5 separate regions of the Homo sapiens genome follow, and regions 2, 3, 4 and 5 are each linked to region 1. The links come from fine-mapping of genetic effects on plasma protein levels. A gene starts in region 1. Each other region holds a variant in brackets. All regions are shown on one strand. Distances are between the middles of the regions.

Region 1 (5,101 bases):
GGAGCAAGGCTGCGTGGCAGGAGGCAGAGTTTGGACACGTATCCCGGTGGGTGCGTGCCGTGTTTGCGTTTTCTGGGGATGGTGGCTGAATGTATCTGTGTGTGCGCGCAGGAAGGAAGGTGGGGTTGGGGTTTGTAGCCAAGAACCGGGGACAGGAAGAACTGGTTCAGGGAAGGTCCGAAAAGGGATGCCGGGGTCGAAGGCGCCAGGGCCAGGGGATGCCGGCATCCTGATCAGGGTGTCAAGCCCTGAGTAGAAGAAGCGAAGCCGCAGCAACAGCGGGGAAGGCGAGCCCGCCGCCCGGCCTTGGTGCTGACAGCCGGCTCGCCCGCAAGCCGCGCGGCAACTCCGGCTCATGCATCGCTTGGCTTCCACTCCGGAGGCCGAGCCAGGACGAGGTTTCGGTGCAAGTCGCTGCACCAGTCCTAGACTGGGTCTGTCCGGGTCTCCCGAGCCGACCGGGTGCTCTCAAGGGTTCCTAATCATTCCCACCTCTAGCAGGGTGTGGGAAAGTGGGTGCCTCCTCCTGACATCCCGGCTTCCCACCAGACCCTACGACCGGCCCCTGTGTTCCGAAGCAGCTAGCTCGGTCTCCACGCGCCCTGGAGAGGGCGGGGACGCGGGCATCCACTCCAGAGTCCGAGTCGAGGTCTCCACCAAACCCCGGCAGCGCGCACTTTGCGCCTCTTGCAAAGTTTCCGCGCGAGGTTAAGCCAAGGTGGAGCGGGACGCGGGCTCTTACCGTAGACTCCTTGTCCCCGGCAGTGGAAGGGGATCAGCGCCAGAAGTAGAAGGCAGGTCACCTCCATCTTCACGGCCGGTGCTTCATCCCCGCGAGGCGGCGCAGCCCGAGAGGCGGCGGGGGGCGCATTCGCCGGGGCCCCGCGACGCCCCTATGTCCCCCCCTTTCCCTGAGAGGTGAGAGAGAGAGCGGCGACGAAGACCAGGAGACTGAAGAGGCGGAGGTGGCGGCGACCCGTGTTTCTCCTCCGGCGGGGCCGCTGCCCGCGTGGGGACGCAGGGGGCGCTGGCCCAGCCCCGGGTGCCTCGGCGCGCCCGGCACAGCAGCCAGCGCCCCGACCCGAGGAGCCCGGCCGCCGAGCCGCCCCGGGTACCCAGGGCCGTCCGCGCGGGATGCTAGGCGCCGGGGACCTCTCGGCGGCGGAGGCGGCGCTTCGATCCAACAGGCCACGGACGACTGACAAACTTGTCGTTTCCCCGCACTGGGGCCGCCCCTCAGCGGAGCGGAGTCGGGGAGGCCGGGGCTCCGCTCGAGTTAATCAATCTGCTGTTTCCAGTCCTGCGGCCGCTGCCGTGGGCTCAGCGGCCCGACTCCAGGGGGCCGGGCTGAAAGCACTCGCGGCGGCGAAGCAGCCCCGGGCCCGGCCCTCCTGATCCGGGGAGCAGCGCGGGCTGGGTTCGGCCGAGGGACGAGCGCCGCGGGTCCCCGGGTCCGTGAAGTTAGCCGAGCCGCCGATAAACCCGGGGGAAGAATAGCAGCCCGGCGCCCCGCGGGAATCTGGAGAGCAATTCCAGGCAAGAAGGGCCCCAGAAAACGGGGAAAGGAGGAAAGTTTGAGTCTTTTGAAAAATATTCGCGCTCTCGCCCAGGCCGGGGCTGCGGCGCGGGCGCCGCTCGCCGCCTCCGCTCGCCGCGCTCCTCTCCCGCCGTCTGGCCGCGGCCGTAGCCCTCCCGGGCTCCGAGCTCTCGGGAGAGCGGGGCTACGCCGCGCCCCAAGTTGGTCGTCCCCGCCCCCGCCCGGCGGCCTTGGCCTGCGGGGGCCCAGAGCGGGCGGGGCCGGGCCGGGCTCCGGGGCGCGGCGGCCGCTCGGCTCCGGGCCGCGGGAGCGCTCCGCTCGCTCAGCAACTTGGGCTTTGCTGTGCTGCTTTTTCGCCCCTCCGAGCTTTTCATTCCGCGCTCCTCCCGCCTCCCTCCCTCTCTTCCTCCTCCCTCCTCCTCGCGTCTCCTCGTTCGGTCTCTCGCTCTCCCACCCGTTGTCGCTCGCTCTCCTGTTTGATTCCCCTCCAGTTAAAAAAAGGAGCCAATTAAAGGCAGCCCAGCTCGCCTGGCCCAGCCTCTGTCCAATTTCCTCGCCTCCCCCAGGACCAATTAGAGAAAACAAAACAGGGCTGGGGGAAGCTGACTGCCTGCCTTTCTCTTTCTCTTTCTCTTTCTCTTTCTCTCTCTCTCTCTCTCTCTCTCTCTCTCTCTCTCTCTCTCTCTCTCTCTTTCTCTCTCTCTCCTCTCTCTCTCTTCTCTCTCTCCTCTCTCTCTCCCTCTCGCTCTCTCTCCCTTCCTCTCCTCTCCTCTCTTTCCCTTTCTCCTCTCCCTCTCTCTCTCTTCCTCTCTCCGCCCCCTAACATTCCCCCCCAACCCCGCCCAGCAGGAAAATGTCAGAAAGCAGAAATGGATCCATCTATCCCGAGGACAGTGGCGGAGGGACCTGGGTTTCGGCGGGGGCTCTGCAGCCGCGCGCTCGCACACTCGCTGTTCTCCAGCCTTGCACACCCAGACTAGCTGGCCGAGCCGGGTGCACCGTTGCCAGCAGCCCGCGGGGCAAACACGGCCGCTCGCTTCGGAGACCCATGCCCGCAGGGCACTGCACACTTCGTAAATGTTTTGCACTTTGGGGAGGCGGGACTGAAGCGGGGGTCCTAGGGAAAGGCCGGGCGCCTGCGGTTCCTGGGGTCCTGCAGCCGCGCGAGACGGGCCGCGGCTGTGGGTCTGCAAGGCTGTCTGCCCGGCTCGAGAGGCCCCCGCCCCTTTCCAGGCGTCTGGTGCTGGGGCCGGGCCGGAGCAGCTGGCGGAGAGGTCGCGCTGAGAGCTCCTGCCCTTGCCGCGGCCCACAGGTTGCCAACAGGTTTGCTCGCACGACCCCTCCGCCAGAGCTTCCCTAAGTCACCCCACATTTTCCTCGGCTAGCCACTCTTCCCATCTTGCCTCCCCTCGGGACCTCAGGCGCCCCCAAGCGCCCCGGGGGCACACCTCCTTCCGGCTGCCGAACCCGAGCCCCGCTCCAGCGGCGGGAGTCCGGCACTCGGGTCTCAGCCGCCTCGAAGGGGCCCTCGCGGAGCAGGAGTGCGGAGAACGCTCCTCCCAAACGCCCGCGGGGAGGGGCGTAGGCTGGCAAGCGAGGCTGGTGGCCTCCCCCGCGCCTCCGATCCCGCCCCGCGCCCAACCCGGGTCCTGCTAATCTCACCTGCTCCACCTGTCGCCGTTATTTATCTCAGCGTGTGCGCAAGAATTGTTTTAGGTCGGCCCGTGGGAGCGCAGACAATCGCAGCAGCTAACAAGCGGGGAGACTACGAACCCCCCCTCCCTTCGCCCCCTGGAACTGCTCAATATCTTGATGGTGGTTCCACGGCTCTATGCATTTGTCAAAACTCAAAGATCTCCACACTCCAAAAAGGTTAGTCTGCATATAAATTGAAACATAAATTTTTTTAAAATAATAATAATGAACCGTCCCTTCCCCAGGCCCATTTCCTGCTGGGTCTCTCCTCCCTTGACTCTCCAGGGCTTAAGCCCCACCGGAGCGCGCGCTCCTGACTGCTGGAAGAGGAGCGGGAGGTGTCGGGAAGTGCCTGGTGGCATGGGGGGGTTCCACCTTCCTTTCTCAGCCCCCTTTCTGTCCATCTCAGGAAGCCCGAGAACATCCGAAGATTCCTATTCTCTAGCCCACCTCCACTCGTTTGCGCCTCCCTTGTGCCCTCTTCCGTCTTTTCTCTCCTTTCTACCCCGTGGGTCCAAGGCTGATAGGAAGTCCAGACTCAGTGCGGTGCTCCCAGCAGATGCCAGCTGCAGACATGTTCAGTGAATTCACGAATGATGCCCATCATGGCCAGATATCACAGACCTGGGATACCCTCAGGGTAGCCATCCTTTCACTCCCCAGCCCCGGACTGTTACCTCAAAGGCAAAAAATTCATTTTCTGTCCCACAGAGATACACAGCCACCATGCCTCTTCCCGCCTCCCCCATCCAGTCAGAAAAGGAAGTGGTGCCAATTGAGGGAGTGATGAGGGATAGCTTCTTCTATTGTCATCCTCTTCCCATTATTAGAGGGTTCCTGGAAGTCTCTACCCCTTCCAGGAAGCTCTCAGGGAGTGATCACAGCGACTGTGGCTCTTCCTGGCTTTGCCCATTCTGAGCTGAATGTGTACTTCTCCATGTCGTGCGAAACTGCGCTCTGATTTTCCAATTAGCTGTTCCAACACCAAACAGCAGTCAATTGCTCCTCTTTGGCTTTGGGGTGAGTTACTGGGGACAGAGAACTGCACTGACTCAGCTGACATTCTCTTGACTTTGCCCTCTCTAAACTCACACACTAGCCTGGAGGAGAAAGAAGGTTCATGATGGCGGGGTGGGGGGAACAGAGGACCAAGTTAGCCAGGCTGGGATTGAACATTTGCTGTAGCTAATCCACTTGTGAATACTCTGCAGCTAATTGTATGCAGTGTAAATACCTTGACAGCCTGTTTGTGTGTGTCTGTAAATTCAGCTGTCTCCTCCCCCAAGTGTGCCCTGCCTGCTGCCTCAACACAGCCCAGTGTCTGACAATGGGAGGCAACCTCAGAGAAGGGAAAGAGCCCTAGACATCAGTCCTGCGTCCCAGTCCTAACCTCTCTAGGCCTCAGTTTCCCCAGATGTAAACTAGGTAAGATCCCTGTCTTCCTAGAGAGAAGTGGAGTAATAAGAATAACAGCTGACACCACATGCCAGGCACTGTATTAACTATTTAATCTTCATAACCATTATGTAAGACAGGGCTGTTATTCTCATGGAATGACATAGGAAGATGTAGTGACTCACTCAGCTGCTAAGGGGCCAAACTGAGCTTTGACCTCAGTAGCTTGGCTCGGCGACCTTGCCCTCTCCCACTGTTCTATACTGAAGAGGGGCAAGGGCCTAGGTATCAAATAATGTTTCCACAAGAACTGTTTCCTGTTCCCTTTACAGACACAGAGAACAATACTCTGGCCCCCAAATTGCACCAAGGGCAGGGGGGACATGAGAGCTAGACTGCTAGACCTGACATGGGCCATAGGGCACAGGATGAGCCTGAGGTCAGGCTATCTGGAGGCTTGGTGGTCAGCACCCA
Region 2 (5,101 bases), 50 kb before region 1:
GCCGGACCGGGATGGCCTTGACCACCGCATTGTGCTGGTTCAACTGTTAAGTACAGAGAGTTCCCAGATGCCTAGGAAGTCAGGCCCTCAGTTTCCTCATCTGTGAGACAGGACAATCACCCCTTCCGTGCCCACCTCCCAGGGCTGTCTTCATAATAAAAATGATGACAGCAACACACTGAAACATTAATAAGTGTGGGGCACTGTTCTAAGTATATTGCCATTAGTAAGTCATTTAATCCTCAAAATTACAATCCTATGAGGCAAAAATCATAATTACCCCCATTTTACAGATAAGGAAACTGAGGCCAAAGAGAGTAGCTTGCTGTAGCTCACACAAAGCTGGGTTCTGGTCTAGGCAGTCTGCCCCTGAGCCACACTCTTACCCTCCCACCAATCACCTCTTGGGCTGAGCAGAAGCACATGGAATCAGACTGGGCACGAGAACAACAGAGAGACCCTGGCTTTGCATGGTGGAGACCCCCTGGATGAGACTTACCCTCCCCTCTCCCATACCCTTCTTAAGCTCTTGACCCAAGAGTTGATTCTATGTTCTGTGAGCAGTGCTGGCTCCCTCCCCCACGAACCCAGCAGACCCTTGCCTGCCCAATTCTCAGAGCTGTGCCTAGAGTCTGGGTCCAGAAGGGACAGATCCCTAGAACCTCCAATCTCTTGCTGCTATGTCCAAAACTTTTCTCCCTGCCCCTGAAGAATTGCCTCTAAAAGGGTCAACGTGTCTAAGCCCCATCTCCGACCCTTCCTCTGGCCTTGATGAGCATTTCCAGGGTCAGCCACACCACACTCCACCTGCCCCCAGGCCCCCGCTCCCCCTTGGCCCACCTGGCGGATGCTGAGTCTGTAGTTGAGCACAGGGTCGACAGCGTCGGGCTCCCTCTGAGTCCACTGCAGCACGTAGGAGTAGTTCTTGGACAGCTTGTGGCTGCGGGTGGGGTTGGGGGTGTCGAAGTAAAACTCCGGGCTGTAGGCTTTGGCTAAGAGGGCGGGGAGGGGGGCATTGGGCCGTGGAGGGTGCAGGGGAGACACAAAGAGAGGAGGTGTGGGAAAGGGAAACAAGAGGATGAGGTGGAAAACAGAGAGGGGACGGAGAAACAAAGAGAAAGGGAATATTGTGAGGTGGGGAACGTTGGGAGAAGAGGGGATTGGGGAAAACGAGGATGGGATAGGAGGGAAAGTGGGAGATGGAGACAGGGAGATTGGAAATTCCAAGAGGTGATATTGGTGAGAAGAGAAAGGCAGGCCGAGAAAAAAACAGAGTAAAGAGAAATTTAGGAAGACACAGAAAAGGGATATGAGGGAAGATGGGGAAAGAGATTGGGGGAAAGACACAAGAGTCAGGGATATTGGGAGGAAAGAAAGAGAAGGGAGAGGAGGGGAATAGAGAGAGGAGTGGGGAGACAGGGAAAGTGTGGGAGAACAGGGGAGAAGGGAAGGAGGTGGGAAATGTCACAGGGGCCTCTGGCTGGCAGGGCTGGGTGGAGGGGAGTGGGGAAAGGGCCAGTGACCTGCCGTCCTATCCCCCTGCTGTTGAGTGAGGGATTCAAACAGAAGCTGAAGGGCCACTTAGTCAGTTGGGTGCTGCTGGGAAAGCTGTGTATGCCACTGAATGGGGGACAGACATCCCCAGGCTCTGCTCCAGGGGCGCTGCCACCAGCTTTTGCAGGGAGGCGGCTCTCCTCACATGGAGGAAGACCATCAGCAACCCAGGCAGCCCCTCTTGTTCCCCTAGGCCTCCCTCACCACCACCTCCACCCCTTTCTGACCCACCCATTGCCACCTGCAGCCCCTGACAGCCCACCTGAGAATGCCTCGAAGAGCTGGGGCTGAGAGGGGTTTCTGGGCACCGAAGGGCCTGCACCTCTAGGGTGCCAGCTCACGAAACGTGTGCTGTCTGGCCCAGTGCCCCGCAACAACGTTCCAGAGAAGCTGCTGAGGGGCGTCTTCTCTCCCCTAAACTACACCTCAGGCTCCCGAAGGGTTCCCCATCTGTAGCCTCAGGGGTCAAGGACGAGCGGGGAGGGGCTGAGATGGGGCTGTGGCCTGGGCTTGAGGGGCTCTAACGCTGGTGGAAGCGGGGCTGGAAGGGATGCTGCCTGCTGCTGGAACGGCTGGAAGCTGGGATTGGACCGAGCTGAAAGGGGTGGAGCCTACGCCTTACGCAGGCGGAGCCCAGACGTGGCTTGGATGGGTTTCGAAGGGGTCTAGGCCTGGTTTGGGTGCTGGTAGAGAGGCGAAGCCTAGGCCTGTGGGAAGGCTATGTTTGAAAGCGGCGCGGTTGTCACACGCCCAGGAAGCGGGCTGAGCTGTAATGGGCGGGGCTTAGGACTGGTATAGGCATAGGCGGGCCTTGGAAGGCGAAGGCCTCAACCTCAAGGGAAGGTGTGAGTGGAGGGGCGTGGCCCGCACCTGGAGGGCGGGGCTGGGAGGCCCAGGTTGGGATCCGAGTGGCACGGGGCGGGGCCTGGCCTTGGCGTGGGCGGGTCTTGGAAAGGCCGGGGCTAAGCCTGGAGTAGGTGGGCTTCAAGGGGGCCAGCAGGCCCACCCAGGCAAAGAATCACCCGGGCTGGGATTGGGGCAGAGCCTGGCCCCTGGTGGGCGTGGTAGGTGGGGCGGGACCCACTGGACGCTCACCGGAGACCTGGAAGAGGCAGGCAGCCGAGCCCACATCGTTGGAGACGCTGCACTCGTAGCTGCCGCTGCTGTCGCGAGTTACGGCGTCGAGGCGCAGCTCCGCGTGATCCGGCGCCTCGGCGGCGGCGGGAACAACAGGCGGCGGCGGCAGCAGCTGCCCTTTGAAACGCCACACAGCCGAGGCGATGCGCTGGGGGCTGCCTCGCAGCAGCGAGCAGCGCAGGAGCACGGGCCGGCCCAGCGCCTGGCGCACGTCCTGGGAACTGGGCTCCACCTCCGGCGGGACTGGGGGCGGGAGCGGCGGTCAGCGGGGCCTCTCCCCAGCGAGTGGGGCCTGAGGAGTGGCCCGTGGGGAGGCAACGC[G/T]CTCGCCTCTAATGCCGTGAGCCCCCGCCAGGAAAAATCCCAGGGCGGATGCACACTCGCAACACATCCCTCCAATGGCCACGATCTTACCTCCCAACCTGCAGATACCCACTCCCTCCTGGCCATTCTCTCCAGCCATGCTTCCCAGACCCGGCCTCCAGTCACGCCCTAAGTGGGCCCCTCACCCCACGCCCACCCCAAGCAATGAAATGCAGGATAACGCAGGGGTTTCGCGCATAATCTCTAAAGCTAGATGGGCTGGGTTCAAATCCCAGCCCTGACTCTGTGAGACTTTAGGCAAGTTACTCAACCTCTCCGTGTCTCGGGTTCCCTGTTTGTAAAAATGGGGGAATAATAGAATCTATTATAGGGCTGTGGGGGGTTCAATGAGTTAGTGCATTAAAACTCTTAGAACAGTGTTTGGCACATGGTGGTAATTTTCATCATCCTGTTATCAGACAGTGTTTCCCTTGAGTGTCCTTCCTCCTCCTTCAAAATCCCATTTCCACCTGGCAAAATCAAGTAATTTTTTTTTTGTTCACCGGGTCCCTGAAAATGAAGATGGGAGATACTTGATGAAATGGAGCAAAGAACACAGACCTCCGTGTCCTACAGCATGGGGCTGTCAAGGAGCATTAGGGGTATCAGGAGTAGCTGGTGGGGTTTGGTTGGACTGGGGTGGGTGAGAGGATGAAGAGGGGACAGGCCGGCTGGGAGCCAGAAGGAAAGCTGGGAAGGTAGTCCGGGTGGCGTGGTGGACTCACACTGCACGTTCAGCTGCACCTGGGCCTCACGGGGGCGCACGTTGAAGCCATTATAGCGGGCCGTCTGGCAGCGGTAGGTCCCGCTCATGTCTCGGCTCACTCGCTCCAGCCGCAGCTTCCCGTCCGGAGTCTCCTCCAGGGGCAGCCCCGAGGGCAGCAGTGCAGCCTCCTTGTCCACGCGGGACCAGAGCACTGGCGGCCGCGGCTTGCCCCGCACCTCGCATTGCAGCTCGGCAGGCGATCCCTCGCGCACGGTCACCACGGCCCTACCCTTGGGCACACTGATGGTGGGCGGCACTGTGGGGGTGATGGTGATCAGCGGAGAGGTAGGAGCGGAGTTAGAGCTCCCCACTGGGCTCTGCCTTCTGGCTCCTGCTTACCTCCCGCTAGGGGCAAGCCTCTCTCTCCCATCCCAGACTTCCGACTGGTCCCCCAGTATTTCCAAAGCAGAACTCACTTTTCCAAATCCTCTCCATCTCCTGGGTCTCCACCTCAGTGTCTCCCAACTCAAAAAGAGACCTGAAGTCAGCCTGGCCTATATTCCTTCTTCCCCAGCACTAGTAAGTACTAGGGATTCCACCTCTTAAACATTTCTAAATATATCCATTCTTGGTCCTTCTGTCCTACTCCGGGCCCTGGCCTATTTAAAGACTTCATCTTCTCTTGCCCTAGTGTGTTATCACAGGCTGCTAGTCTGTCCTACATCCTTGCCCTTTCGTCCTAAGTAATAGGATACCTAGTTTTCAGCAGGGCTTATAGCCACCCAGAAAAAAGAGTACATCTCCCAGCCTGCATTATCGTTAGCTACAGCCACGTGACTAAATTCTCGCCAATGGGATACTAAGGAAAATGAGGGCGTTTAAAAGAAGCTGTACCCCTCTTCTCCTTCCTGCAGAAAAGAATGCAGAATAATGGCTGCAGCTGGAACTGCCATCATGGGCAACGTGGCACATGCTAAGGATGATGGAAGAGCAAGCCAGGTGGAGCCTGGGGCCCTGAGGACTTGGTGGAGCAGAGCCCCTATACTAGCCCTGACTGCTCACCAGCACAGTTTTACATGAAGAAGAAATACACATCTAGCTAGTTTAAGCCACTGTTAATTAGGGTTATTTCTGTTAATAACACTGTTAATTTCTTTTATTCACGGCAGAACTTAATTCAACCCAACACATTGCCCAATCAGAGGGTCTTTTGAAGACTTCCATGAGTCCCATTGCACATTACATCAAACAAATTAAAATGTACCCATGTTCCACATTAAATATAATTTAAATACAAAGTTCTTATTTGTAAATAGCTCTACAAGGCAAGCTGAGGTCCAGTGA
Region 3 (5,101 bases), 84 kb before region 1:
CTTCTCTCAGAGGACCCCAGTTTTGTTGAGGTTCAGCCGTGTACCCAGCCTTGGAGGATGAGTCACTGGTCTGGGCCAAATATGACATTCCTCTCCTCTTTGCCATATACTGGAGTCTAGGTCCCAGGTAACGATGCATTAGCACTTTTCAGATCAACCCTCCTAAAGACCACGAAAAGTGCTGGATAAAATATATGTTAACAAAATAAACTTAAATGCTTCAAAAAGATGAGAAAGCAACAGGGAATACCAAGCTAATTTGGGAATGAAAGCGTCTAACCGGAGAGGTAAGCACCAAAGCTGTTTATCCTGAGGCTATTTGCAGATACTGCTCAACTGAGCTTCGAATCAAGGGAGGCTTGAGATGAGAGGGACAGAAATCAAAGTCCACGAAGGCCTGAAGTTGGGGATCTTCCAGGAGACCCTCTCCACATCAAACTGAGGCTGCCAAAGGGTGCACCCTAAGGTTATGGTGCCAGAGACTGGATTTCCTGAACTCCTTTGCAGGCAGAGGTGGCTGTATGACTCAGTTCTGGCCAATGAGACACAAAAGTCTGCTGGACAGTCTCTGGGAAGGAATTTTCTCCCTGATGAAAGGAGAGAGTGCATGAGGAGAGCTCTCTTTTTCTTTCTTCTTCCTTGCAGCTCAGGATGTTGTCTGTGAGGCTGTGATGAAGTGCTCTGGCCGCCATCTTGTGACCATGAGGCGATGGACACTATGAACACACTGAAGGTTGCAGAGCAGAGGGATCTGTGAGGAGCCTGAGTCATTGACCAGCTCAGGAATCAACCCCTCCAGACTTTTCGCTACTTACGAAAAACCAGGCTGGGCGCAGTGGCTCACACCTGTAATCCCAGCACTTTGGGAGGCTGAGGCGGGCAGATCACCTGAGGTCAGGAGTTCAAGACCAGCCTGACCAACACGGTGAAACCCCATCTCTACTAAAAATACAGAATCAGCTGGGTGTGGTGGTGCATGCCTGTAATCCCAGCTACTCGGGAGGCTGAGGAAGGACAATCACTTGAACCTGGGAGGCGGAGGTTGCGGTGAGCCGAGATCGCGCCATTGCACTCCAGCCTGCTAGGGGACACCCCTTTTGGTCTAATATGCTGTTACTTCAATGGAAGGCATCTCTCAACTGAGAAAACCATGTACACACCACAAATGCATGGCAGGGGGGCTTGCCTGCTTTTACCACTATCACTCATCCACCATGAGAGTCACAGGGTGGCCCCTCTCTGACTCCCCTGGGCCCCCAGGCAGAGCAAGGAAGGTGAAGGAAGAGTAAGAGTCCAGGCTCCTCACCCCCAGGGGTCAGAAAGTTCACAGCTATTTTTACCCCTCCTCCCCCGTCTCCTCTGCCACAGAATTGATGACATTCAGGGTTAAAATGTGTTCCCAAGCCCAGACTCTCTTCTACCTCCCTACAGGACTTGAGCACATCTCTGGGGCTCATTTGTTTGATCTGTGAAGTTGGGGGACTGATCCTACTGTACCTGCATCTCAGGGTCAACATAAGGAACCCCTTTACCCTGTTTAGGCCTCTTACCCCTTGCTGGTGCTTTACAGACTTCATCTCATTTAATTTAATTCACAGGACACCCGCTACCAAGAGATGGTGTTATTAACACTTAGTTTACAGGCAAGAAAATGGAGACTCACTGAGCTTAAATGACTTGCCCAAGTCACACGGCTTGCAGGTTGCTTAATTCAGATCTGTCCAACTCCAAAGCATTGCCTTCCCAATCCCCCACCCTATTCCCAGCTGCCACCCCCAACCCCACAGAAGCTAGTAACACGGGTAGGTAGATGGCAGCTTAGGGCTGTAGGAATACATGAGGGTAAGGGCAATCAGGGAAGACTTCCTGGAAAAGATAGGGAGGGCTGGGTCTTGAAGCCTGGACAGAAATTAGAGAAAGATGGAAAGCCAAATGACCTGGAAGAAACTGAGCCAGACTCAGAGCTTGGGAGGGAGGGAAGGAGGAGATGTCTGGGAGTGGGGACAGGTATTGGGAGGGGCCAGTGGACATAACCATGCGAGAGGGTTTGAGTGTAGTCTGGGGTTAAGCATGCAAACTGAAGAGCCAGGGGACTGAACTGCCTCCCAACTCTGCTATTTATCAGGATTATGACCCAGAATGAATTCGTTAACTTCTCTGGGCCTTAGTTTTTGCATCTGTAAAATGGGGATGCTAATAGTACATCCCTTGCAGGACTGTGCTGACTAAATGTACCTTGGCTACAACAATGCCTGGTACTTCATATATGTCGTGATCACACCCTTCCTTCTTTGTAGCTCTCCTGCTCTCCCTGCAGATTTATTTGACCACTCAGAGATGCCCCAGAGAGCTCCTAGTTTGCCCCACCTCTGGAAGCCTTGATCTTTCTGCTGAAGATGCCCATTGCCCTTAGAACCCCACCAACCTGGGCTCCCTCTAACCCACACCCTCCTTCTCCCTCCCTCCTTCTATGTGGGGGAATGAGAGAGATAAGAACCAGCAGCTTCAATTAAAACTGAGTCGCTTGAACAATAATGGAAAAGTAATTGAGCTAAATTGAAATGTAATTGGAAAAAAAAAAAAACAATCGTGGCTTAACATGGATTTAAAAGCCAGGCTGGGGGCAGGGAACTCTACACTCTACAGCCTCCAAATCTCCTTATCTCTTCGCCATCTCTCAGGGGGCCCCCTCACCACTCAGCCCAGAGTCCCCACAAGCTCCTCCTCATCCTCCTGAGGCTCCTCCCTTTCTCTTCTCTTTCCCAGCCTCACCTCCCCTTATCCTAAACAGGGCTTCTTGATCAGGAGTAACTTTGCACGCTCATGTG[C/T]GCACACACACACCATCTAACAGTGTCTGGAGGCAACTTTGGTTGTCATGACTTGGGGACGGGGGTGGATACTACTGGCATCTACTGTGTAGGGCCAGGGGTGCTGCAAAGCATTCTACAGTGCCCAGGACAACCTCCACAATCAAGAATTGCTAAGAGTGCTGAGATCGAGAAACCCTCTCTACTCCATCTTTCCACTCTGCTGAGGCCCCCAACCCTCAACTAAGGGGCCTCTATTATCCTTTTCCCTCTCCAGCATCAGAGAGGCACCCCCTTTGATGTATGTGCCCTATAAACCCAAAGACCTGGACCTTCAGAAGAGAGAAGAATAGATGTCCTTACTTCCTGAGGGCCACATCCTAGCCCCCTACCCTCTGCCAGGGGAACTCAGCCCTCTCTTCCTTCCTCTCCTCCCCATCCCTTTTCTCCCTCCCTCCTTCCTTACTCCTTTCCCTCCTCCCACTCCCTTGCAAAGGCCCATCTGGAGGCCAAGGAGCAGACAGGATGACCTTTAAATCTTCCTGCCCATCCACATTACCCAAAAAGGCCTCAGAGGTCAGTCCTTGGAGGGATGCTACTGGGGGCCAGAATCACCACATCCCAGGATGTGCAAGGCAGAAATGTCCTTGGAGATCATCCCAGTAGGAAGGAGGAAGCTGGCCCAGGAAGGGAGGCCAGGCTCGGGGCTGGCTGGCACAGAGCTGAGGCCACCCAACCTCCAGACTCCCATCCATGAGCTGGCCACTGCCCATGTGAGGATGAGGAGGGAGGAGCATCTCCAGGTCCTCAGATCCTCTTCCCTCTATTCATACTGGAACTTAGCCCTTCTGCCCACAGAAGCCAGGCCTGCCCCTGTCTGCCTGTCCAACTCCTTCCATCTCTTCCCTTCCGCCCCCTCCTCCAGGCTCCTGGTGTGTGACTCCACGCGGGGGTAGGAACTTGGGAAGGCAGGGAGGTGAGCAGGAGGTGTCTGTTTGGGCTCCCGATAAACTCAGGAGTCAGCCGGCGTGAAATGAAGAAATATGGCTCCCGGTAAATATTTATTTTCTATCAGAAATTAGCAAACCAAATGTAATTAAAAACAACTCTGTGTGCCTTCTCCACTCCCACCCCCAACCCCAAGTCTAGAAAATGACATCTCAGAATAGTGAGTCATAAAGACCGTGTCCTAATTAGCAGGCCACCCGCTGCTGCTGAGGCTGCCTTCCTCAGACTCCCCAGGAAGTGACGGGGGCCTGGCGTGGACTCAGGTCATCGAGGTGGCCTCTGAAGATCTCCTCTAGCCTCCATCCGGGTCTAAAGAGTTCGAACCCTGAGCAGGGACCAACAAGGGGAAAGAGAGAATGAAACAGATCTCTCACTTTTGAGTCTGATGGGGGAGGCAGAGCATCTTTCTGGCCCCTGCCCATCTCCAGGCAGGTAGCAGTGGGTGCTGGTTAAGGAAACTGGGTTTGGAAAATCAGCAGAACCTGATTCCCTCACTTTCTAGCTGTGTGGCCTTGGACAACTCCCTTTAATTCTGCCAGCCTCAGTTTTCTTATTTGTAAAATGGGGATCGTGAGGCCTACCTTGCAGAGTCACCAAAAATGTAGTGAACCCCTGCTTTGTGCCGGGTTGTGGGGCTAGAGCAATGACCCAACCAGACATCTCTACTCTCCGGACTTACCTCCTGGTGGTCCTGGTAGTACTCAGTTGTACAGCCTCCATCCACCACCCCAGCCTACCAAGTCCTGGCAGTATTGTCATCCCAGTGGGCTGGGTAATAGTTACCCCTCTTTGTTGAGCACCTACTGTGTGTCTGGTGCTGTGATAGGCTTTGCTCCCACAAGGTGGCTAGACTAGTTGGAGGGCTCGGTTCCAAGTCTAAGTCCCACGCTGCCTTGGGATGGAGCACTGGGTGAACAGAGATCCTGACTTTGGCTGCTTTGCTCCTCCCCTTAGCTTAGGCTGTGGGTTGCTGTGCTCAACAAGTATTCCATATCCATCCTTCCTCCAGAAATGCTGTTTCCTGCTGTCTACACCTCTAGTTAAAAAATCCCCAATGTTCTAGTGCCAGCAGGGTGAAGTTTGGCCCTGCTTACAGGGTCTCCACAGCTCACTTCCCTGACCTGGGTGGCACAGGCTTCTGACTTGGCCACTGAAGCAGTTGTTGTCAGGCCTACCCGGGTCCCTTCACCCTTACTCCCTGCAATGCACCAGCCCAACTTCGGACTACTAGTCCCTGCACCCCTTTGCCCAAGACCTCTCTCTGGAGCAGCCCAAAGCATCCTGCT
Region 4 (5,101 bases), 15 kb after region 1:
TAGGGGAGGCAGGAGGACCTTCTGGGTGGTGGGCTGTGACATCTTGGATCTGCCTGGTGCCGGCCACCAATGCCTCTGCCCAACAGATATAACCCCCTCTCTCCTGCCCCCGCCACCCCGAAGCCAGCCATGAATCACCACTGCTCTAGCCACTTAATTGAATTTTACCTACCCACCCAATGCCTCATTCATTCATTTATATAATCATTTATTCATTCAAACATGCATTGAGGGCCTACTATGTGCTAGGCACTAGCTGATGTTAACATTTATGGTTCAGAGAGATGAATCAGCAGCTGTGTACTCTAAGTCGTACCAGCTCACAAGCTGGCAGCATCTCTTCTCAATTCCACGTTCAGGCTACAAAGCAAGACCTTTCCCCCAGACAGGTGGTTGTTGAACACTTACCAACACACCACTGTAGCAGGCCCTGGTGTCTCAGGCCACACAAACTCAAACCATAGTGGCTGACAGTCTAAAACAGAGAAGGACATTGATCCAATTTATGGTGTAACACAATCTGGCCCACCCAGATTTGTTGGCCTCAAAGCCATCCACAGCTACCACACAATCGCCTTTGCAACCTAGGAGCACACCAAGAACAGAGGAATCAGTTCTATCATGCGAGACCTAGGAAGGCTTAATGAAGGAGACGTATTTGAGGCTGAGGCTTTGAGGTGAGATGTCTGCCTCAAGGGAGGGTGTTCCAGGTGGTGGGGACAATTTAAGCAAAGGTCTGGAGGGAGGCCAGGCAGAGCGTGTTCACCCCACCTAGATTAAAATGCTGTAGGAGGGAGTTTTCCCCACTTGTTACCTTCCTGATCATACCAGCAAAAGTGAACTGCTCTCCGGAGGAAAAAAGTGATATTGCAAAAGCTGGGCTGTCAGGGAGGGGCTGCTGTTAGAACACCAGGTACTGAGAGATAAGGATGCCTCTCCTCTTCCTTGCTTCTCCTCCCAGCCTCCCCCTCATCACCATTCCTTCTCAAGGAAAGGCCCGACCTGCAGGAAAAATGGCTGCAGTGTGTGAAAGGGGCAGCCAAGAGGCCACCATTGACCCACCCTCAACACCATCACCATTGGCACCACCAGCATATGCCACGGTATATAACCACGGCAACCTGGCGACGACAGTCATCCTGTCATCACTCCCTGTGGGGCTCACTGGCACTGTTACTCGGCCCCTACAGACCTACATGCACAGGCTTGGCTTACAGATATCAGGACAGACACCCAAACAGACCAAATGCTCTAAAGGACTCCAACTACATTTACTGAATGTCAGAGGAGGTCAGGATAGAATTCATTCAAGAAGCAGGTTTCCCAACGAAAACTTCATACCTGCCACCTCCTGACTCTGGAAGTTAGGGGCTCCCCCTATGTGTGCATGTCCACACATATATACACACACACATGCAGAGGCAAGAGTACATCCAGGATGCAGCAGCATTGAATGCCACACTGTTCAACTTGAGATAGGAGAGGCATGGGGGAGGCCTCAGTCTATCAGCCTCAATCACTCCTCCCAGGCCTGGTGAGCTGGTGCCAGCCCAGGCCTGGCCCGCATCCTCCCAGCCACCCTGCCAACCTCACCCAATTGCCTGATGAGGGCCTGAGCTGTCCACCAGTTCAAGGCAGGCTCCCACTCTCCTTTACCAATCCATTGCTGGAGGACGACTATACACCACCTTTGTAGAACACTCCACAGTCCTCAAAGGGCAGTCACGTATTCGCTCATGTAATCGTGGGAACCCTGGGATGTCATTAGGGTCTCCAGTCTATAGAGGAGGAAACTGAGGTTCCGAGTGACTGGAGATGCAAACACAAGCACCACTAATCCTAATAACTAAGCTTTACGGGTTCCATGTGCAGCATTATCTCCCTCCACCCTCATCACAGCCCTTTAAGAGGTGCTATGTTTATCCCCACTTTCCAGCAAAGGACCCTCAGCACCGTTTCTGTGGTGAACAAGTTCACTGTGAGCTCCAGGGTCTCCCTAGTTGGCCCAGAACCTTGGCCCCTGCTTTTATCCTTGTCACACTGCCCCCTCATGAGCTCATCCATCCCATGGTTCTGATTACCACTCAGTGACCTGCAGACAGTGTGGCGTGGGGCCAGGAGCATTTCTCTGGAGTCTGACTGCCAGCTTCTTAGCTGTGTGACCTTAAGCAGGTTACATCACCTCTCTGTGCCCCAGTTTGCTTGTCTGTAAAACAAGGCTAACAGTAGTAAACATAAGAGCAAATTCTTCCAGAGTGCTTATTTTGTGAGAGGCACTATTCTACACCAATTACAAGTATTAACTCTTGAATCTTCACCACATCCAGTGAGGTAAGCCCTTAGCCCAGGGCCAGGAGTGCTGCCTGCACTTGGTAATT[G/GT]TTGGCGATGATGAGCTGTATATTCTGGCTGAGCCCCCTGAGGCTGCCCAGCTATCTGCTTAAAACACAACCCTGGCTGGGCACAGTAGCTCACTCCTGTAATCTCAGCACTTTGGGAGGCTGAGGCAGGAGGATCACCTGAGGTCAAGAGTTCGAGACCAGTCTGGCCAACATGGTGAAACCCCGTTTCTACTAAAAGTACAAAAAATTAGCCGGGCGTGGTGGCGGATGCCTGTAATCCCAGCTACTCAAGAGGCTGAGGCAGGAGAATCGCTTGAACCCAGGAGGTAGAGTTTGCAGTAAACTGAGATTGCGCCACTGCACTCCAGCCTGGGCAACAGAGCAAGACTCCATCTCAGAAACAAAACAAGACAACAACAACAACAAAAAAAAACCACAAAACCCCATTCCTTCTCCCATGTTTCTCATCTTGGTGAATGGCTCGTCATTCTCTCATCACCCGGGCAGACGCCTGGAACCTAACCTTGGGCTCTTCCTTTCCTCTCCAAATGCACATTCAAATTCAGCAGCTCTGCCTCCTCCAACTCTCATCTCCTCCATCCTTCCATCCATTTCCTGTTCCCATCACTGAGGCTTCTGAGGCTTCGGTGCAGCCCTACTCATTTCTCCCCTGGATTATGCAGCGGCTTCCTGCTTCCAGCCCACACATGTTACAAGCCAACCCCCTGTGCTGGCAGAGGAGACTTCTGAATCACAAATCCACTGAAAATCCCTCTGTGTCCCTCCACAGCCTACAGGATCAAGTTCAGACTCTCCAGCTTAGCACCAGTGCTTGTAGGATTTGGGCCCTGCCTTCCTCCCCTCTGCTCCCAGCCCACGCACTGCAATATGGCCACTCTGGGCATGCCAGTTCATTCCTCTGGCCCTTTGCACATGCGGTTTGCACAGTCTGGAGTGTCCTGCCCATCCTCCTTCATCTGACCAGCCCCCCACATCCCTCATGACTCAGCTCAGGCAACATCTCTTCCCAGAAGTCTTGCTGGAGTTCCACTAAATGCTTCTCCTTCATGCTCCTAGAATAATACTCTTAACTCATTGAAATTATAATGACATTATCTGTGTGTTGTCCCACCAAACACAGATGTTGCCTGGAGGCAGATGGTTAAAAGCAAGTATTGCAGTCAGATGGTCACAGGTTCTGATTCCAGCTCTACCGTTTACTAATGGTGTGATCTTAGGCAAGTTACTTAACCTCTTTGAGTCTCAGTTTCCTGATCTCTAGTGATAGGAGGCGAATGGTAGTACCTGCCACAGAAAGTGGTTGTGAGACTCTTGATGTAGCAGGAAAAGTGCCAAGCACAGTGTCTAGCTCAATCCAAACACTCAATAAATGTTAGCTATTATTATCTAATATAAGATTCTGTCTTTTTCATCTTCCTGTTACTATTGCCAAAAATATGGCCAGCCATGTGCCAGATAGTTAATGTCTTTTGAACTGAATCAAAGTGAAATAACTTGGAAACAGTTTCTGTCTGAATCAGGGTTTCTAAGTTGCAAGCAACAGAAATCACACTGGCTGTTTTATGCAGAAAAGGAATTTACAAAGGAAATCAGGTAGTTCACACAATCTCTAGGAGGACCAGAGGATGAGGCCTGGAAACCACAGTCAGGAACACAGTGTCCAAATGACACCCTAGACCTGTTGCTGTGGATGCCCATCTACCCCCACAACTGGCACAGACTCTGCAGCCTATACTACTGACACTGGGCACTGAACTCTAGAGATTGTCCCTAACATTTGGGAGGCTCAGGGAAAGAGGACAAATGGAGACTCTCATGCTCTATATCCAAGTATTTCAAAATCTCAGTGCTCACAATCTATTAAATGAAATATATTAGAATCTGTTCCTGTTACTACGGCTGCATAAGAAGTGCCAAAACTTAGTGGTATAAAACTAACATTTATTAAGCTCCTAGATTTTGTGGATCAGGAAGTCAGATCCTGAATGGTTTGTCTCTGCCCTGTAATGCTGAGGCCTCAGCTGGAAGGTTCAGAGACTGGGGACTGGAAGCATCTGTAGGCTTACTCATTCACATGTCTGGTAGTTGACTGGAGGCCTCGGTCCCTCTCCATGTGTCTCTCCACGAGGACTGGTCTGCACTTCCTCACAGCATGATGGATGGATTCCAAGGGCAAGTTTCCTAAGAAAGAGACACCCATAAGAAGCTGGATTGCCTTTCATGACCTAGCATCCGAAGTCATGCAGTACCACTTCTGTCACACTCTATTCATCAAAGCAGTCACAAAGTGCTGCCCAGATGCAAGGGGAGGGGAAGTGGACTCTGCCTCTTGGTGGGGAATGTAAAGATCTGAAAGAGCAAGCAAGATGACACGCTGCCGTTACCATTTTTAGAAAATACAGTCTTCCACAGATTCTACACCTTGACACATAAACTTTTATAACAGCCAGGAAGGTCAGGTTCAGACTCAGAATCCTCAGAACTGTGCTACAAAAGGGTGGTGCAGGGAATCTGCCTCCAGCCCCTGTCCCTTCTCTTTCTTCCCTTTGGCCCTGTCCTGCCCTGCAAGGGGCCCCTGGGCTTGTGTGTAGACATTCCTGCCTACCGGCCCAAGTTCTCTTCACATCCCCCACCAACAAACACCCCTGGGCTGCCTCTCAGGCTTTAGGGTACACCACTGCAGTGTGATCTACCTTCGGAAGACAGACCCAGGAAAGAGGCCTGTACAGGCCCTGGAAGTG
Region 5 (5,101 bases), 23 kb before region 1:
GAACTAGAGACTAGTGCTGTCTCAGGTCTCCCCCCACCCCCCATCCCCATAATATAACATTAACTGCAATAGCTACCCTTTATTGACATTTACTCTGCCAGCAATATATTCAGTGCTTTATATCTTTTATCATATTTATTGCTCCTAACAAGCCTACTATGGTTCGGACTTTTCAGATGAGGAAGCTGAGGTTCAGCGAGGTTATATAAGTTACCCAAGGACACCCCATTGGTCTGGAGTCTGTCTGACTCTCCGTCTTTCATGCTAACCGCCATGCATTTCCACTTCGCAAGTGCCTAGCCCAGTGCAGGGCTCACAGCTCAGCACGGAGCCTCCACATTCCTGGTGGGACCGATGCTGTGCAGCATCCTCAGAAACCGTCCCTCCCTCGCCGTGACACCTCTCGCCCTCCCAGATCCTGGTATGCAAGTGTTTATTGATCCTTTTATGCATGTAATGCAAATGAACACTTAATAATTTAGTGGAGTTAATAGTGCTGAAATATTAACAGGCTTTTCTCTTTTAATTAGCTGCTCAGAGAATGGCGGTCGGGGGCCTGGGAGGAGGCTTTCCTGGGCAGGCACCTGGCCTGCTCCGCCTGGGCCTCCTTCTGCCAGGGATGATGTTCCAAGCCTCTCTACAGACTGTGAGCCATCAAGCGTGGGCCTCTTGGGAAAATTAGCCCTGCCCTTCTGTGCTCACTGCATCGGGAGTTGCTCTGCCCTTACCACAGCCCCGCTCTCTGCAGAGCTGGCTGGAGCCTGTCCTCTGTTCACCACCAGCCGGGGGTGGACCAGGTGACTTCTCGGAGGTGCTCTGAGGCTGGGGGAGGCTCCAGTTCTGTGCTAGGAAAGCCGACTTGAAACAGCCCAAACCCACTCACACCATCTCCTCCAGCCTTGCCTGAACGCAGAGCATCTTGAGGGAAAGCAGCAACAGACTTTTGGCCCATCCAGTTCTGGTCATTCTCTCTCCGATCATTAGACTCATGTTCGAGTCCATTTCCTTCCCATCCTCCCTCTCGCTCCCTGTCCTCCCAGTCCCTCAAAGGGCACACACAATCACCTTTTAATTTGCCATTGATTCATTAATTGGCTCTGTAACATTTTCTGAGCACCTATTATGTGAAATCTCCTGCCCTCAGTGCTGGGACACAGAGCCAAATGAGGCATAGCCCTTCTGGGCAAAGAACCTCTGCCCTCTCCCTGCTGCAAACCATATTAAAGCCTGTTCCCCGACACAGGGCCTTTTCTGCTCATCAAAACCAAACCCATATTCAGCCAACCTTCCCTTTGGCTGCAAAAATCTCTCCCTAACCAGAGTGCATGTGTCTCTGACCTCCGGGTACAAGGGCGCTGTCACTGAATACAGCAACCAGCCACAGCTGAAAGGATCAGTGTGCAGGCCGCCACCCCGCCACCACAATTGAATGCAAAAACAAGGTCTGCTTTCATAGTCAGATGCAAGCCTGCTACAGTTTGCAGGGCCTTGTTCCATTTGCAGAGCCTGCCACTGTGGCGCCTGGAGCTTCTGGGAGAGGCTGGCACCCTTACAACTCTCCTCTGCTGCAAGTGGCGGCTGGTCCATTATGTCCCATTCCCTGGGGATGTTCAGCACCACTGCGCCCACATCCTGGTCTCATTGGAAGGCACACAGGTATTGAAAGTGGCAGGTGATGCTCATAGAATCTTCACTGTCTATCAATGGAAGTCTAATCTGCACACCCACTTATAGAACTAGAGGGTGTCTGGACAGGCCACCAGGAAAGCCCTTTAATGAGGACTTTTAGGTCTCCTGATGAAAACTATAAAGGGACTTTCTCCTGGTGGGTCCCAGGATGCCAGGATTAAAACTGCTAATGATTGCTGGGCACGGCGGCTCACACCTGTAATCCTAGCACTTTGGGAGGCTGAGGCAGGCGGATCATTAGAGATCAGGAGTTCGAAACCAGCCTGGCCAACATGGTGAAACCTCGTCTCTACTAAAAATACAAAAAATTAGCTGAGTGTGGTGGCAGGCGCCTGTAATCCCAGCTACTTGGGAGGCTGAGGCGGGAGAATCACTTGAACCTGGGAGGTGGAGGTTGCAGTGGGCCGAGATC[G/A]TGCCATTGCACTCCAGCCTGGGCGACAGAGAGAGACTACATCTCAAAAAAGCAAAAACAGCAACAACAAAAAACTGTTAATGATGAGGGGACACAGGTCATCTCCAATCAGTAAAGGCAGGACAAGTTGGGCACTGCTTGATCAGAGGCTTTAAATGCAAATCTGAGAGGGCTGCTCAACGGCATAGGGTGAGGGGTAGGGAGGAGTGCGCTACCTTTTACTCAGTGACCAAGTGACCTTGGGAAAGTTGTTTAACCTCCTTTAGCCTCAGTTTCTTCATCTGCAAAATGGGGATAGTACTACATCTCAGGCTTCAATGGAGATAACTTTTGGGTTGTTGTGAGGATTCGATGAGACAATGCACATCGGGTACATCACACAGTGACTTGTACTCAGCAGGTACTTAATAAATTTCAGTTCCATTTCCACTTAATAATATAGCCCAGGATGCTTTGGGAACCTATTCCAAAGTCTTGCAAGAAAAAAATGTGAAACCGAATGAGGTCTACTTTGAAGGATTTCCAGGAGTTTGTAATCCTGAGAGATCAGAACATTAAGGTGGGCTGAAAGTAGTAATAATCACTGGGAGGAAAAGCTCTCCCTGTGAGAATATGTAAGATGATGGAAAAGAGAAGCTTCCACCCATCAGGGCAGAGAATGACTCCTAGGATCCCAAGGTCTGAGCCTTCCTGGCCCAGTGATGTGGGACCCATGGACACAGGGTTACTCATTGTTACTCATGTAAAATTTCCTTGCCTGGATCCCAGAAAGGAAAGTTCTAGCCCCACCAAGCTCTGCTGGTCTTGGAGACCCCATCACTGTGGTTCACTTGGCACTGGTCCCTGGCAGCAGCCCAGGGTCTAGATCTGACAAGCCTGCACCTGTCAAAGCATACCTATTGAACCAAGCCCACGGAAACAGTAATTTCTGGGTGACTTGAGGCAAATCATTTACCCATCTAGTCTACAGCCTCAGCTTCCTAACTAGAGAATGGACATAACAGGGCTCCCTATTGTGAATGTGAGACCCACTGAGAATGGAATGCCCTGCGCATAGTGCATGCTGCCTAGTAGATACGCTAGAAGTACAGTTAGAAGGGGCTGACATAAAACCAGACTCATGAGTGTGTCTGCTCTGAGAAGGTCCTCCTGTTCCAGGGTGAATCCTGATAGGCCCCAGTCTCTAGGAGTCTGTGGCACAGTCGCTAGGGATAGGGCACCACCAGGGTAGGACCGGAGACACACTGCCAGATCCAGGCCTCCAAACCAGAAGGCAGAGCCTGGGCCAGGAAGTGGGGATGGCAGTGGCTTTGCTAAAGCAAGGAGCCCCCAAAGCACCACCTGATCAAAAAGCCCAGTGAGGCAAAGGGATGGAACATGGCTCTCTCCAAGGCCCACAGAGCTAAACCCCAACTCTCAAGTAGGCTCAGCTTGGGGTTCTGGCACAGGCCTGAATGTAGGGGCCAAAGGGAGAAAATGAGGCTAAGGCACTGGATTTGGGCTGCAGTGGGCATCTGGGGACCCTGAGCCCTCACATAAGCATGGATGGAGGTAGGTGGCAGGGGAGTCCTTTCCACAGAGTGCAGTAGAAAAGCAACCAAACCTGGCCCAGCATGATGGCTCATGCTTGTAATCCCAGCACTTTGGGAGGCAAGGCTGGTAGATTACTGGAGGTCAGGAGTTCAAGACCAGCCTGGCCAACATGGTGAAACCCCAACTCTACTAAAAATACAAAATTAGCTGGGGGTGGTGGCTTGTGCCTGTAATCCCAGCTACTCGGGAGGCTGAGGCAGGAGAATTGCTTGAAGCCGGGAGGCAGAGGTTGCAGTGAGCTGAGATTGTGCCATTGCACTCCAGCCTGGGCAAAAAGAGCAAAACTCCATCTCAACAGAAAAAAAAAAAAAAAAAGGAAAAGCAACCAAACCTGCAAGAACTAGTTAGAGGCTCCACTCCAGCACTTAACTTGCCTAAGCCCCCACTTCCCCATATAAAACAGAGGCCAATAACATTAGGCTTACAGTGTCTTATTAAGTGAGATGACATTTAAGAAAGTATCATGTAAACTGTAAAGTTCTGCATAGAGCAGGACTTATTATTATTAGGTGCCGAACGACCCAAGTATGGCTTCAGGAGGTTCAAATTGGAAGTTAAAAAGCAGGCCATAATGCACCTATTAAACCAGTGAAAATAAATTAAAATGATAAAATCCATTGTGGCCGGGCTGTGCACAACACCAGCTCAAACTTTCCGTCACACAACCCGGCAGTGCGAAATGAGAACCATAAAACTGTTCCTATCCTATGACCTGTTAGGCAGTCTCACTTTGGGGAATAGGCCCCAAGGAAATAATTTAAAAGGAAAAAGTAATTCACATAAGGATATTCATGGCAGAGCTATTTAAAAGAAAGGGAAATTGGCTCCTACCCAAATGCTCGGCAGCAGAGAAATGGTGACCCGAACTCCAGCACATCGATGCAGGGGGTGTCCTGCGGCCATTAAAGTGACAGGTCTGAGGGCTCAGTCAATAGCAGGAGACGTGTGTAGGAGATAAAGGCAGCCGAGAAAGCAGAACAGACCACTGTTTACTGCTATGTAAAAATATATTGACAGGTATGGGCAGGGAGTTTAGAATGAATGGTTAATGTTTGATGGTCATTGGGCTTCTTTTTTTTCTATGAAGTTGTTTAAGTGGATAATAATAACAATAACAACAATGAAAGCAAATCAATGTTGCAGCTTGAGAGCTGGTGGGGCCTTGGCCCATAGCAGCACAGAAAGGGAGGGAAGGAAGGACAGCATTTCTGGGGGTCTCCCACAGCCTGGCAGACTCTGACCCCCTCCGACCTCGGGTCACTGTGGGTCCCTGGGTAGAGCTCCAGCTCCTGGAAAGCACCCCACCCAGCTGCAGGGGGAGATAGGGGTGCTGCACCCCAACTTCTAGCAACCCCTAAAGCCATCTCTGCATATGCAGTTACCTGGTTCCTCCAGGCCAGGCCTTGG

What was found. PIP is the posterior inclusion probability: the model's chance that the variant is causal. Protein levels are from antibody-based Olink assays in UK Biobank. Linkage for the fine-mapping came from a reference panel and not from the study's own genotypes, which makes the PIPs less certain.
Region 2: its variant is fine-mapped to the plasma level of the MDGA1 protein (UK Biobank, PIP above 0.99).
Region 3: its variant is fine-mapped to the plasma level of the MDGA1 protein (UK Biobank, PIP above 0.99).
Region 4: its variant is fine-mapped to the plasma level of the MDGA1 protein (UK Biobank, PIP above 0.99).
Region 5: its variant is fine-mapped to the plasma level of the MDGA1 protein (UK Biobank, PIP above 0.99).

Annotation. Positions count from the first base shown.
Region 1 is chr6:37,696,003-37,701,103 of GRCh38, forward strand. It overlaps MDGA1 (MAM domain containing glycosylphosphatidylinositol anchor 1), which reads right to left and starts at 1,881. Exons shown (of 17, transcript NM_153487.4): 1 at 743-1,881. The coding sequence starts at 809. RefSeq lists enhancers at 1-504, 505-1,234 and silencers at 777-936, 967-1,256, 1,437-1,496, 1,557-1,686, 1,747-1,816 and 3 more.
Region 2 is chr6:37,646,333-37,651,433 of GRCh38, forward strand. MDGA1 (MAM domain containing glycosylphosphatidylinositol anchor 1) reads right to left here. Exons shown (of 17, transcript NM_153487.4): 8 at 3,777-4,073; 9 at 2,650-2,934; 10 at 841-992; 11 at 1-43. Among named protein-coding and RNA genes, the nearest start is that of MDGA1, 49 kb to the right of the region's middle. RefSeq lists a silencer at 2,374-2,473. The variant G/T (reference allele first, on the strand shown) is at 3,013.
Region 3 is chr6:37,612,102-37,617,202 of GRCh38, forward strand. No RefSeq gene overlaps it. Among named protein-coding and RNA genes, the nearest start is that of MIR4462, 59 kb to the left of the region's middle. The variant C/T (reference allele first, on the strand shown) is at 2,829.
Region 4 is chr6:37,710,564-37,715,664 of GRCh38, forward strand. No RefSeq gene overlaps it. Among named protein-coding and RNA genes, the nearest start is that of MDGA1, 15 kb to the left of the region's middle. The variant G/GT (reference allele first, on the strand shown) is at 2,379.
Region 5 is chr6:37,672,911-37,678,011 of GRCh38, forward strand. The region is part of intron 1 of MDGA1 (MAM domain containing glycosylphosphatidylinositol anchor 1); the gene reads right to left. Among named protein-coding and RNA genes, the nearest start is that of MDGA1, 22 kb to the right of the region's middle. The variant G/A (reference allele first, on the strand shown) is at 2,102.